Linked DNA regions of Homo sapiens. The protein of the gene in region 1 purifies or fractionates together with the protein of each later gene. This does not show direct contact. Each region holds a gene or a part of one and is shown in the gene's direction. Other genes may lie near its edges.

What was found.
Region 2: the proteins of SLC16A7 (region 1) and TEX2 purify together in Homo sapiens (affinity purification with mass spectrometry; one large-scale study listed by BioGRID and IntAct). This does not show direct contact.
Region 3: the proteins of SLC16A7 (region 1) and CAND2 purify together in Homo sapiens (affinity purification with mass spectrometry; one large-scale study listed by BioGRID and IntAct). This does not show direct contact.

Annotation. Positions count from the first base shown.
Region 1 is NC_000012.12:59,780,915-59,784,567, forward strand, and holds part of SLC16A7 (monocarboxylate transporter 2), read left to right. Parts: 3' UTR 1-3,653. UniProt on the Homo sapiens protein: Proton-coupled monocarboxylate symporter. Catalyzes the rapid transport across the plasma membrane of monocarboxylates such as L-lactate, pyruvate and ketone bodies, acetoacetate, beta-hydroxybutyrate and acetate.
Region 2 is NC_000017.11:64,214,619-64,218,271, reverse strand, and holds part of TEX2 (testis-expressed protein 2), read left to right. Parts: intron 1-3,653. UniProt on the Homo sapiens protein: During endoplasmic reticulum (ER) stress or when cellular ceramide levels increase, may induce contacts between the ER and medial-Golgi complex to facilitate non-vesicular transport of ceramides from the ER to the Golgi complex where they are converted to complex sphingolipids, preventing toxic ceramide accumulation.
Region 3 is NC_000003.12:12,799,645-12,803,297, forward strand, and holds part of CAND2 (cullin-associated NEDD8-dissociated protein 2), read left to right. Parts: intron 1-3,653.

The DNA of each region.
Region 1 (3,653 bases):
AATGGCAGCACTTGAAAATTCTGCCCTCTACTGATGAGACTTCCTGCTGCCTTTGGACATAACTAAGCCAGGAAACTTTAAAAGCCTTCTAGAAATAGAGGCACTGTATGACTTGCAATCGTAGGTATAGTTTATAACCTGATAGCAAAAAACTTGAAATATTGCAGCCCAGTTTAATTCAGCACTTTCCCATTTTCATAACTATGTGAAAACATCTGGGAATTTGAATCACTCCTGAATACAGAGGCATATTCTTTTTAAACTATAAATACCATTTTGAGTGAGAAAGTACTTTTAAACAAGAAAGAAATTGTACATTATGACTAAAGTTATAAATACAATATTTATATCTATAAATCTGAAGTTTAACATGATTAATTTAAAAAGTATTTAGTGCTTGACAAAGTAGTGTCACTCTTAAGATGTCAAAGGGAATTAGCCATTTTTTTTATTGTAATAAAGGCAGGTGCTATTTTTTTCTGGTGAGATTGCACCTGGATACCAGGCTTTTGTAATAGTTAACATTAAACATTTGATTCATAAAGTTAATTCACTGCTTAAGCATGTGGCTCATATTTAGGAAGCTATATAAAATTCAGTTTTTCATTTAACATTTGCTCTTTTGCATATGAAGAGATATTTGTATTTTTCAAATGTTAAGTAAAACAAGATGTGCCAATATCATAGGTAAATAAATTAGGGAAAATGTGGGACTTTATGGCTGTTTTTAATTTAGTTTCACCCGATCTTGATTCTTGAATTAGCTATGTTTATATTTTTAGTTCTTTTTTATTCAACTCAGATTTGTCAAGAAATGTAACCTCTAAATTGTGTAGTACCTCTCCAATCATAAATTTTCAAAAAAAAATTCTACTTTCCAAAAAGTGTCTTGAATTCTCTGAAAAGGCACATTAAACTAATATGAACATCAGATACCAGGGGGAAATAAATGGCAAAGTAATAATCATGAGGTTTTAGGTCAAAGACTACATTATATATATTTTTTATTACCTTCTAGTAGAGACATCCTCCTGGGTGCATTTCAGTGGCCTTCTCCAGGGAGGAGGTTTATTTACTTACTGATGAGTTTCTCGTCACGTCAAAACCAGTTCACATTTGTCTGGCTGCTCTTTGGTTGTCTTCATTCGTTATTTATTTCTAACACTGTATTAAATTGTTAGAAAAGAAAGTAAAACTTGCACATTCAAAGCACATGATTTGTACAGTCACACCTGGCAGTAGCACTGCACAGTTACAAATATGCACACACGTTAACTGCTATGCATAAATATTGACAGTTAAACCAGAACACAATTGAAACAGTGACATAAATACCTACAGGATTCAGAATTGTTCCAGGGTAATATAAATTATTCTACTTGTTCACTCTCCCCACCCTCTTGAACTTGTTAGAAGATTTGCTGCTTTAGCAGAATCTTTCCAAGATTGAGAAAAGTGTATCAACCTAGGATTTTCATTACTATATAGTCACATAAATGGAGGAGGAGATATATTTGGCTTCTGCCTCTGCAACAATTAGTATGAACATATTTCTTTCTCTAGGGAATAATAGGTTTTAAACATTTGAGATATCATGAAGCAAAGTCAGGGTATACCACTACAATCCCCACTAATCTCTATTCCCACATTATGAAATTGTACAGAAGAAAGGGTGTCATTAAATCAAGGTATCCAGATAATTCATGGCTACTTTAACTATTTTTTCATTCGTGTTAACTGAGCCCCCCATATTTTTTACTACTTAACCTTAAATATGCCATCACTAATTTATGAATAGAACATTGTGTTTGCACTTTTCCTGACCTATCCTCACCCCCTTTCCTGATCCTTTTTGCATTCACCTAGCACACCTTAAGAGACAAAAAATCAGGTTTTAGTGTATTTCACATTGGAAGACATGATGTTTTCTCAGTATAAATCTACAGGACTCATAAACAATCACTTTTTTGGTGCCAAGTTTCAACCCTTTAGCTCATGGACTCATTGGCCTCAGCCTAATACTAAGAAACAAGTAAAATAATTAGATTTTCTATGTTTGAATGTGCACTTTAAAAAATCTAGATAATTTATACTCATTCTTTTCTGGCTGTACAACATGACAATCAAGAATATAGAAAAGAAGACTAAAAGATATATGATATAAATGTAAGTTTTTATGTAGATGACATAAATATGAAGAGATATTCTTGGTCAGTTGGTTGAAACATTTTTTATCTAAAACACCTTTAAAAAATCCCTTTCATATGTAGAATGTGGAAGGCTTTTAATAAAACAAAAATTATTATTTTTAGGCTTAATTTAATAGGGAGATTGGATGCATAGTGGAAAGGGAACTAATATTTATATGTTATGCATTTTGCTTATGTAATGCCTTTCAATATGAAAACCAAAACCATGGCAGAATTATTACTAGCTTGATATGACAGATGAGTGAAAACAAAAAACAAGCTCAGCAGACTACCCAAAGTTAAAAGGTAGTATGAACCAAAATTAAAACTCAGGTTTACGTAACCAGAAAGATCCCCGAGGTGTTCACTACCGTGCTGCCTCCCAATAGAGGCCAGAGAAGCAAAGGAAGATAAAATATAGGTACAAAAAAGATACATCCTATATAGTAAAACAATTAGGTTTAACTGTAACTTGTATTATGATTTATTTAGTGTTTATTAGAGAACTGCATTTGCTAGAACCTGAATATGTAATTTCTTTCTTTCTTTCTTTTTTTTTTTTTTTGAGACTGAGTCTCGTTCTTGTCGCCCAGGCTGGCGTGCAGTGGCACAATCTCGGCTTACTACAACCTCTGCCTCCCAGGTTCAAGCAATTCTCCTGCCTCAGCCTCCCGAGTAACTGGAATTACAGGCATGTGCCACCATGCCCGGCTAATTTTGTGGCTTTTTTTGTTTTGTTTTGTTTTGTTTTGTTTTAGTAGAGATGGGGTTTCTCCTTGTTGGTCAGGCTGGTCTTGAACTCTGACCTCAGGTGATTCACTCGCCTCTGCCTCCCAAAGTGCTGGGATTACAGGCGTGAGCCACTGCGCCCAGCCTTGAATATGTAATTTCTGATTGCCTGCTTTTCTCCCCAATGCAAATTATCTCAAATAATGATAATTATTACATATAGACATAATTACTTCAATATGACTCTTTTTCTCATAAAAATAATGACATATTTGAGTCAGGCATAATACATTTTTTCTGAGGTTGGAGTTAGCAGGAAAATGTTATCTTTTATGAATAAATAATTCCCAGATTGGTTGCTACATATCATGATTCAAAAAGTAAAATAATTACCTGGATGTGGTGATGTGCACCTGTAGTCCCAGCTACTCGGGAGGCTGAGACGAGAGGGTCATTTGAGCCCAGGAAGTTGAGGCTTCAGTGAGCTATAATGGCCCCACTTGCAGTCCAGCCTAGGCAATAGAGTGAGAATCTGTCTCTATTAAAAAAAAAATAAAATGTTCTTACTAGAAAACATTATATTTAGAATTTTAGTGATTATTCCATTTATAATATTATCCGTAGCTACCAAAAAAAAGATTATAAGATACAAATGATTTGGTTTACCCATACAGTTACATATTAATTTTCATCATTTAATACAACTTACCCTACACCGTAGCTTATTTTTCAAGT
Region 2 (3,653 bases), on another chromosome or scaffold:
AAGCCTTTCAGACTTTTTTTTTTCTGGAGTCAGAGTCTCACTTTGTCACCCACGCTGGGGTGCAGTGCCACAGTCTCAGCTCACTGAAACCTCTGTTTCATGGATTCAAGCAATTCTTGTGCCTCAGCCTCCCTAGTAGCTGGGATTACAGGTGTGAGCCACCGTGCCCAGCCATTCAGAAATTTTTTTTCAATGTATTCATTGTTAGTTGTGTTCAGCAGAATTGTGAGCCTGATAATGGAGCCTGCCTTCCCAGACAACCAGACTCCAGACCTGTTTTTCCATGTTGCCTCTGCCACCCTCATCCATTCTGGGACGGGACGTGATTAATTTTGTGTACCACTTTGATCATGTCAGACTTTTGCTTAAACACCTCTCCAGCACGAAATCATACCTATGGGAGCCTGGCGACAACATGAGCTACAGCTCTCCTTCCCATCACAAGGCTTGGGGGGTCAGTGTTAAAACCCAAGGGCTTTGTAGTCTGCTGGAACTATGGGAAAAAGAGACTGTTGAGAAGGAAGCTTTCTTTTTTGGCCTTTCAGTTCCTGAGGGCTTGAGAGAAGCTTGTCTCTTTTTTTGAGCCTGGGTATAATTGAGTTTCAGGAGTAGAGGGCAGGAGGCTAGCCATTTTATATGGTACCAGATTGTCAGATGGATAATGAGACCTTTCATTTCTCAGTGCGGCCAGTCACATGCTGCTGGTTGAGAACTGAGGTCTTAGCTTGTAAGTGAGCTGTCCATGACGGAGCACAGAGGGCAGGTACAAAAGCTGGGACAAAGCAGGAATAAAGAGCGTGTGTGGCATGTTTGAAAAGGCACCCTGCCGGGCATCGGGCCTCAGTGTCAGGAAGCCCATGTTGTCAGTGCTGTGCCCTTGGACAAACCATGTAGTCTTCCTGGGTGTCAGTCAGGTCCTTCCTCTTGGCCTTGGCTGTCCTGCATGGCTGTGGCTGTGGGAGGGTCGGCTCAGTTGGCCTTAGCAGCCAGCCACTGGGAGGACAGAGAGAAGAGGGAACTTGAAGTGGTCCCCAGGAGGAGGCAGAGGCAGTGACCACTTGATAGGTTGTCTAGAGCCCAAACCATGGTCTCTGGTTCTAGCACACTCAATTACCCAGCAGTTTGGGGCCTGGAAGCAGCCTTTGTTTATCTAGCCTAATCCCCTCATTTTGCAGATGAGCAAACAGAAGCCTGGACATTTTCTTGTATTTAAAGAGCAGTAGTGATGCTCCGGCCTCGTGTGGCTTATTTTAGTAAAAATCTAGAGAAGTGGAACCAGGCTTTGGTTAGTGTGGGTTTGGGGGCATTTACTGTGAACCTCTGAGGCCACTGTCTGAGTGAGCCCTGGAGGACAATAACAACAGTGAGCCAGAGCCTGCCCCCATCTGGCCACCTGACACCCAGCTCTCCCTGGGGCCCACCTTCAGCTCTGTCCGCCCAGTCTGATCAGAGGTCGCTTTACCTGGCCAGTCAGGGGGCCCAAGTGTGTGGAGGATTAGGCAAGCAGGGTCCTGGTGACCTCCACACGAAAAATAACTCTGCTTCCTGAGCAGGTGCCAGCTTTTTGTTCCCTGGGGCCTGGCCTGACTGCTGAGACCGCAGGCTTCTGAACGCATTGCTGTTTTCACCCTTTGGCGCTAGGCTGGGCCTAACTTTGCCCTTAGATTCCCAGGCCTTCTTATCCTCAACTGCAGACGGGCCTCTCCACTCTTGCCTTGGTTCCTGAAGGACCGATTCACTCTGTTCAACCTCAAAATCATGCACTTTGTACTTGGACTTGTGCCCACAGTTACCTTCATTTATAGCCACCGCTGTGGGTGAAGCAGCCTCAGAACAGCAGAGCCTTACATATCATCCTTTTATGTTATGAAAGCAACTTAAATGAGTTTTTCAGCCCACTGAGAATTATCAAATACCAAACTTTTCTTTTTAAATTACCTCTATAATTTTCTTTTTAAATTGCCCTTATAAAACTAGGTGATAGTTAAATGAAAAACATATGTTGCTTCTGATATTTTTCTTCTTACTAAGCCTACAAATTCCTTAGCTTAAGATAACAGGGAAGGATTGTCCTGGACCCGAGGCTGTGTTTTTCTGGCTGCTGCCAGTTCCTGGATTTAAATTGCTTTGTTGGTGGATAGAGATCATTCCCTTTTCCTGGATTCAGGATAGGAAAGCCTGAGGGTCACAAATGAGCCTGGACAGAACTGTGTGTGAAAGTTTTTACGGTAACTTCTCTCAAATATTTGATACTGAAATTGTGTAGTTTCAGCTTGAGTCCATGTTGCAGCTGGGCCCTTGAATGTAATTCTTGTCATCCTTGGAATATTTCCTCCTTCTAGTGATCCAGGATCACTGTTTCCCAAACCCCCTTATTCCCCTACCCATTTTATGATTTCTCTTGTTGGTAATATCAGTTGCCAGCATTTTGAACCTGAATATTTAGCAGAAGGCTTAAATTAGGAGCTCTTCAAATTAAAGAAATAAGCAAGCCACATAATGTCGATTGTGGTAGATTACTTGTAAGCGTATTGTGTTGGGTTGGATACAGTCACCTGTAAACATAAACGTGTAGCGTTTTAAATTTGGAAAGGACTGTGGATCTACCTCCATTTTACAGACCAAGATACTGAGACATCGAGAGGCCCTGGCTTGTTCAAAGTCCCACAGAGTCAGCTGTAGAAAGACAAGTACTAGAAGCCCTATGTCCTGGGCCCAAGCTGGGTGCTCTTTCCACTGCCCCACGATGCCCCTTTTGTCTCAATGGCCTCCCACTGCTCCCCACACTCACCCTCTGTCCTGGAAACAGAATAGAGCCAGGTGGCTGCACACACCATGCCCATTGCCATCTTTATGCCCTTGTCCCTTCCCTCTGCCTAATCATGCTCATCCCACTACAACTCACCCATCAGTTCCAAAGACCCGTTGGATGTCCCACCTCCCACACTGGTGTCATCCTCCTCAGAACTTCTGAAGCGTGCCCTGTGTCTTGGCTCTTTTTACATGGTCTCTGTCCAGGTGTGGTCTTAATTTTTACATAGTAGGGCTAGTGCCCAGTAAATGGGCCATGAGTGAATAAAGAGAGATGACTGTACCATGTCACAAGGTGGGCGTGGCATCTTGTTTTGCTGCCCAGCTTTTCAGGCTTCTGACTTCGTTCCAGCTAAGCTCCAGAAAGAAGCAATCAGCTATTAAGCTCCAGAAGGGCAGAAAGCATAGCTTCCACATCTCTCACCACAGTCCTTGGTAGAGTTCTTGGTTGGTGGTGGGTTACAGCAGTGATACTTCATTTTCCTGACACATGAATCTTGCATTCAGTTTAAAATATGTTTGCTTTATCCTGATGCCTCAGAACGTGGCCATGTCCTCATGGCTGCCTCATGTCTTCATGGCTGCCTAAATACTCTGGTCTTATGGTACCTACCATTTGAGGAGGCCAACAGACCATGGCAATTAGTTTACAGATTTCCACATTTGGATACTTTGCTACTTACTTGCAATAGCAGGAAGTTGGGAGATGCAGGCCAAATAATTGTTAGGATTGCTGTGAAAATTGCAGTGAACGCAATACCCCTCCTGGGTTAGCTTGTTACAGCTACAAGACTCCTAGTGAAATTTTTGTTCCAAGATCCTCAAACTCAACAGGATGCTAC
Region 3 (3,653 bases), on another chromosome or scaffold:
GCAGACCTGTTCTTTGTTGAGCCTGGAGTCCCAGAGATAAACCTGATGAGCCTCTGCCCTCAGTGAGTGTACAGTCCAATGGAGAAGATGCTCTGGTGGCCAGACTTGTATTGCAGTGTGAGAAGTGCTATAAAGGAGGGGTGCAGAGTGCTCTGAAAGGATCTTGTCCAGGGAACCATTGTGCTTAGGGGCTGTGGATGCAGGGGTAGGGCAGGGAGGTCAGTCATCCTTGAGCTGGGACATTTGAGCTGGGCTCTTGATGGGTGAATAGGAGGAGCTCAACAGATGAAGAAGAAGAGCGGGGATAGAAGGCCTATCTTGGGCAAAGAGGCACATCGCCTGGGTTGCCAGGCTGAGCTGGGCCCCCATGGACTGCAGCAGAAACACAACTTGGAGACCCTGGGTGCCATCTCAGAATGTCCCCTCAGCTGAGCAGACGTAGGGGTGCATGTGCTCACCTCAGGCCTTGGCCTGGCTCAAATCCAAACCTCCTCCTTCACTTTACCTTTGCCCAGAGGTGGGCACAGTCAGTCCTGCCATCCTGCCCATGCTGCCAGCCCAGCCTCCTTCTCTCTCCTAGCAACTTGTGGCTAATCTACCTGTTAAAAATAAATAGGTCATCGACCAGTCCACCCCTGGTAACAGGGCACTGTGGGCTGCAGTGACATCTAGGAGCAGGTCTGAGTCTGCACAGATGAGAGCCAGAATCCCAACTGTGATAGATTTTGCCACAGGAGGCGGGGGTCAGGGCTCTTGGTTGATTTGCTCAACCATGCTGGAAAGCAGGGCCAGCGTGGGGTGGTAGAGTGGCCCAGCAGGGTCAGTAAAAGCTGGAGGCTTTCTCCGAGGCAGCCTTACAGTATCTCCTCGCTGCTCTGTCCTGTTTTCTCCTGAGACTCCGCTCTCACATGCCTGCAGGAGCCAGTCAGTGGGTGAAGTGGGCCTAGTGGGGACCAGGTGAACTGGGGAGAGGGCAGCCACAACCTGATTCTAATCAGGTATTGTCACCAGGGATTGTAGGCCCCGTTGTACTCAAATATTCTGTTTTCAAGATAATCTGGAAGTCAGTGTTTTGTTTTTGTTTTTGTTTTTGTTTTTTTTTGAGTCTCACTCTGTCACCCAGGCTGGAGTGCTGTGGCACGATCTTGGCTCACTGCAACCTCTGCCTCCTGGGTTCAAGTGATTCTCCTGCCTCAGCCTCCCAAGTAGCTGGGACTACAGGTGTGCACCACCATACCTGGCTAATTTTCGTATTTTTAGTAGAGATGGGGTTTCCCCCTGTTGGCCAGGCTGGTCTCTAATTTCTGACCTTAAGTGATCTGGCGACCTTGGCCTCCCAAAGTGCTGGGATTGCAGGCGTGAGCTGCTGCGCCCAGCCTGGAAATCAGTATTTTTTTTTTTTTTTTTTTTTGAGATGGATACTCGCACTGTTACCCAGGCTGGAGTGCAGTGGCACGATCTCAGCTCACTGCAACCTTTGCCTCCCGGGTTCAAGTGATTCACCTGCCTCAGCCTTCCCAGTAGCTAGGATTACAGGTGTCTGCCACCGCGCTCGGCTAATTTTTGTATTTTTAATAGAGACAGGGTTTCACCATATTGGCCAGGCTGATCTAGAACTTTTGACCTCAGGTGATCCACCCGCCTCAGCCTCCTAAAGTGCTGGGATTACAGGCGTGAGCCGCCATGCCAGGCCAAAGTCAGTATTTTTGTGTCAACTTTCCCAATGTTCAAATGTTGACAAGTAATTTAAATTTTTGAAAACATGTTTGCAAGCTGGACACAGCTGAGGGCTACTAGTTTCAGACCTCTGCTCCTACCCTCTTAATTTTGGCGGGAATGGTGCCCAATTCCCGCACCATTCCTCGACTTGGAAAGTTGGCCCCAGCCTCAACTTTCCGTGGCTTCCAGCTTAGACTCCCACTGCAGTTTCAAATGCCTGGGACAGCATCAGGCTTTTGGTGTCAGGCCCCATGAATCCCTCACCTCCGGGTGGGTAGCCCTTGCCTCTGGTGCCCACCCTAGGTCAGTGAGCCAGTCAGCTATTGGCGCTGGTCTCCAAAATATGCCCATGCCCATCAGCATGGCGTGGGGCAGTGGTTTTCAAAGTGTGGTCCCTGACCCTCAGTGTCCTCCAGGAATTTGTTAGAAATGTGGATTCCTGGGCCCCAACTCAGACCTGCTGATTCAGAAACTCTGGGAATGGGGACTAGTATTATTTAACAAGCGCTGCTGGTGATTCTGATGCTGGCTATAGCTGGAGATCCACTGCTCTAAGGGCAGGGACTGAGCCGGTTCTCTGAGATGGGAGTGGACAGGGCTCGCCCTCCTCCATCTGTTTGGCAGACAGGCCTCTAGCTCTGACTTGGACACAAGGTGTCTGTTCAACCTTCTGGTATCCCTTGGCTGGGCGCGGTGGCTCACGCCTGTAATCCTAGCATTTTGGGAGGCCGAGGTGGGCGGATCACGAGGTCAGGAGATCAAGACCATCCTGGCTAACACAGTGAAACCCCACCTCTACTAAAAATACAAAAAATTAGCCGGGCGTGGTGGCCGGCACCTGTAGTCCCAGCTACTCGGGAGGCTGAGGCAGGAGAATGGTGTGAACCCAGGAGATGGAGCTTGCAGTGAGCTGAGATCGTGCCACTGCACTCCAGCCTGGGCAACAGAGCAAGACTCCATCTCAAAAAACAAAACAAAACAAAACAACCTTCTGGCATCACTTTCTCAGCTGTTGTGAGATGTGGATGATGTCCTGTGCCATTATAATAATGGCAGTGCCATTTACTGAGCACACACCATGTGCACTTAAAACACCATGAGGCAGGTACTAGTCTCATCCCTGTTTTCAGACAGGTAAACTAAGGCTTGGAGAGGTGAAATGACTTGCCCAAGTTCACACTCATAAATGGCTGAGGCGGGGGCCACCGATCCTGAAACATTATGCATTTAGCCAGCATGCTGAGCCGTTGCTAGTCTGCCACTATGTGGCAGTTGGTGTCACACATATGTGGGTCTCCTTGTAGCCCAACCATGCCCACTGCCCAAATAATCCACCATCATGTGGCACTTAACGACGGGGAAACATTCTGAGAAGTGCATCCTTAGGCGATTTTGTCCTTGTGTGAACCTCATAGAGTGTGCCTACACAACCTAGATGGTAGAGCCTACTACACTCCCAGGCTATATGGTGTGGCCTGTTGCTCCTAGGCTACAAACCTGTATTGAGTACTGTAGGCAGTTGTAACAGAGTGGTATTTGTGTGTCTAAACATAGAAAAGGTACAGTAAAAATAAGGTAGAAAAGATTAAAATGGCATGCCTGTATAGGGCAGCTCCATTAAAATCTTTTTTTTTTTTTTTTTTGGAGACGGAGTCTCTCTCTGTCGCCCAGGCTGGAGTACAGTGGCATGATCTTGGCTCACTGCAAGCTCCGCCTCCCGGGTTCACGCCATTCTCCTGCTTCAGCCTCCCAAGTAGCTGGGACTACAGGCGCCCGCCACCACACCTGGCTAATTTTTTGTATTTTGTTTAGTAGAGACTGGGTTTCACCATGTTAGCCAGGATGGTCTTGATCTCCTGACCTCGTGATCTGCCCACCTCGGCCTCCCAAAGTGCTGGGATTACAGGCGTGAGCCATTGCGCCCGGCCAGCTCC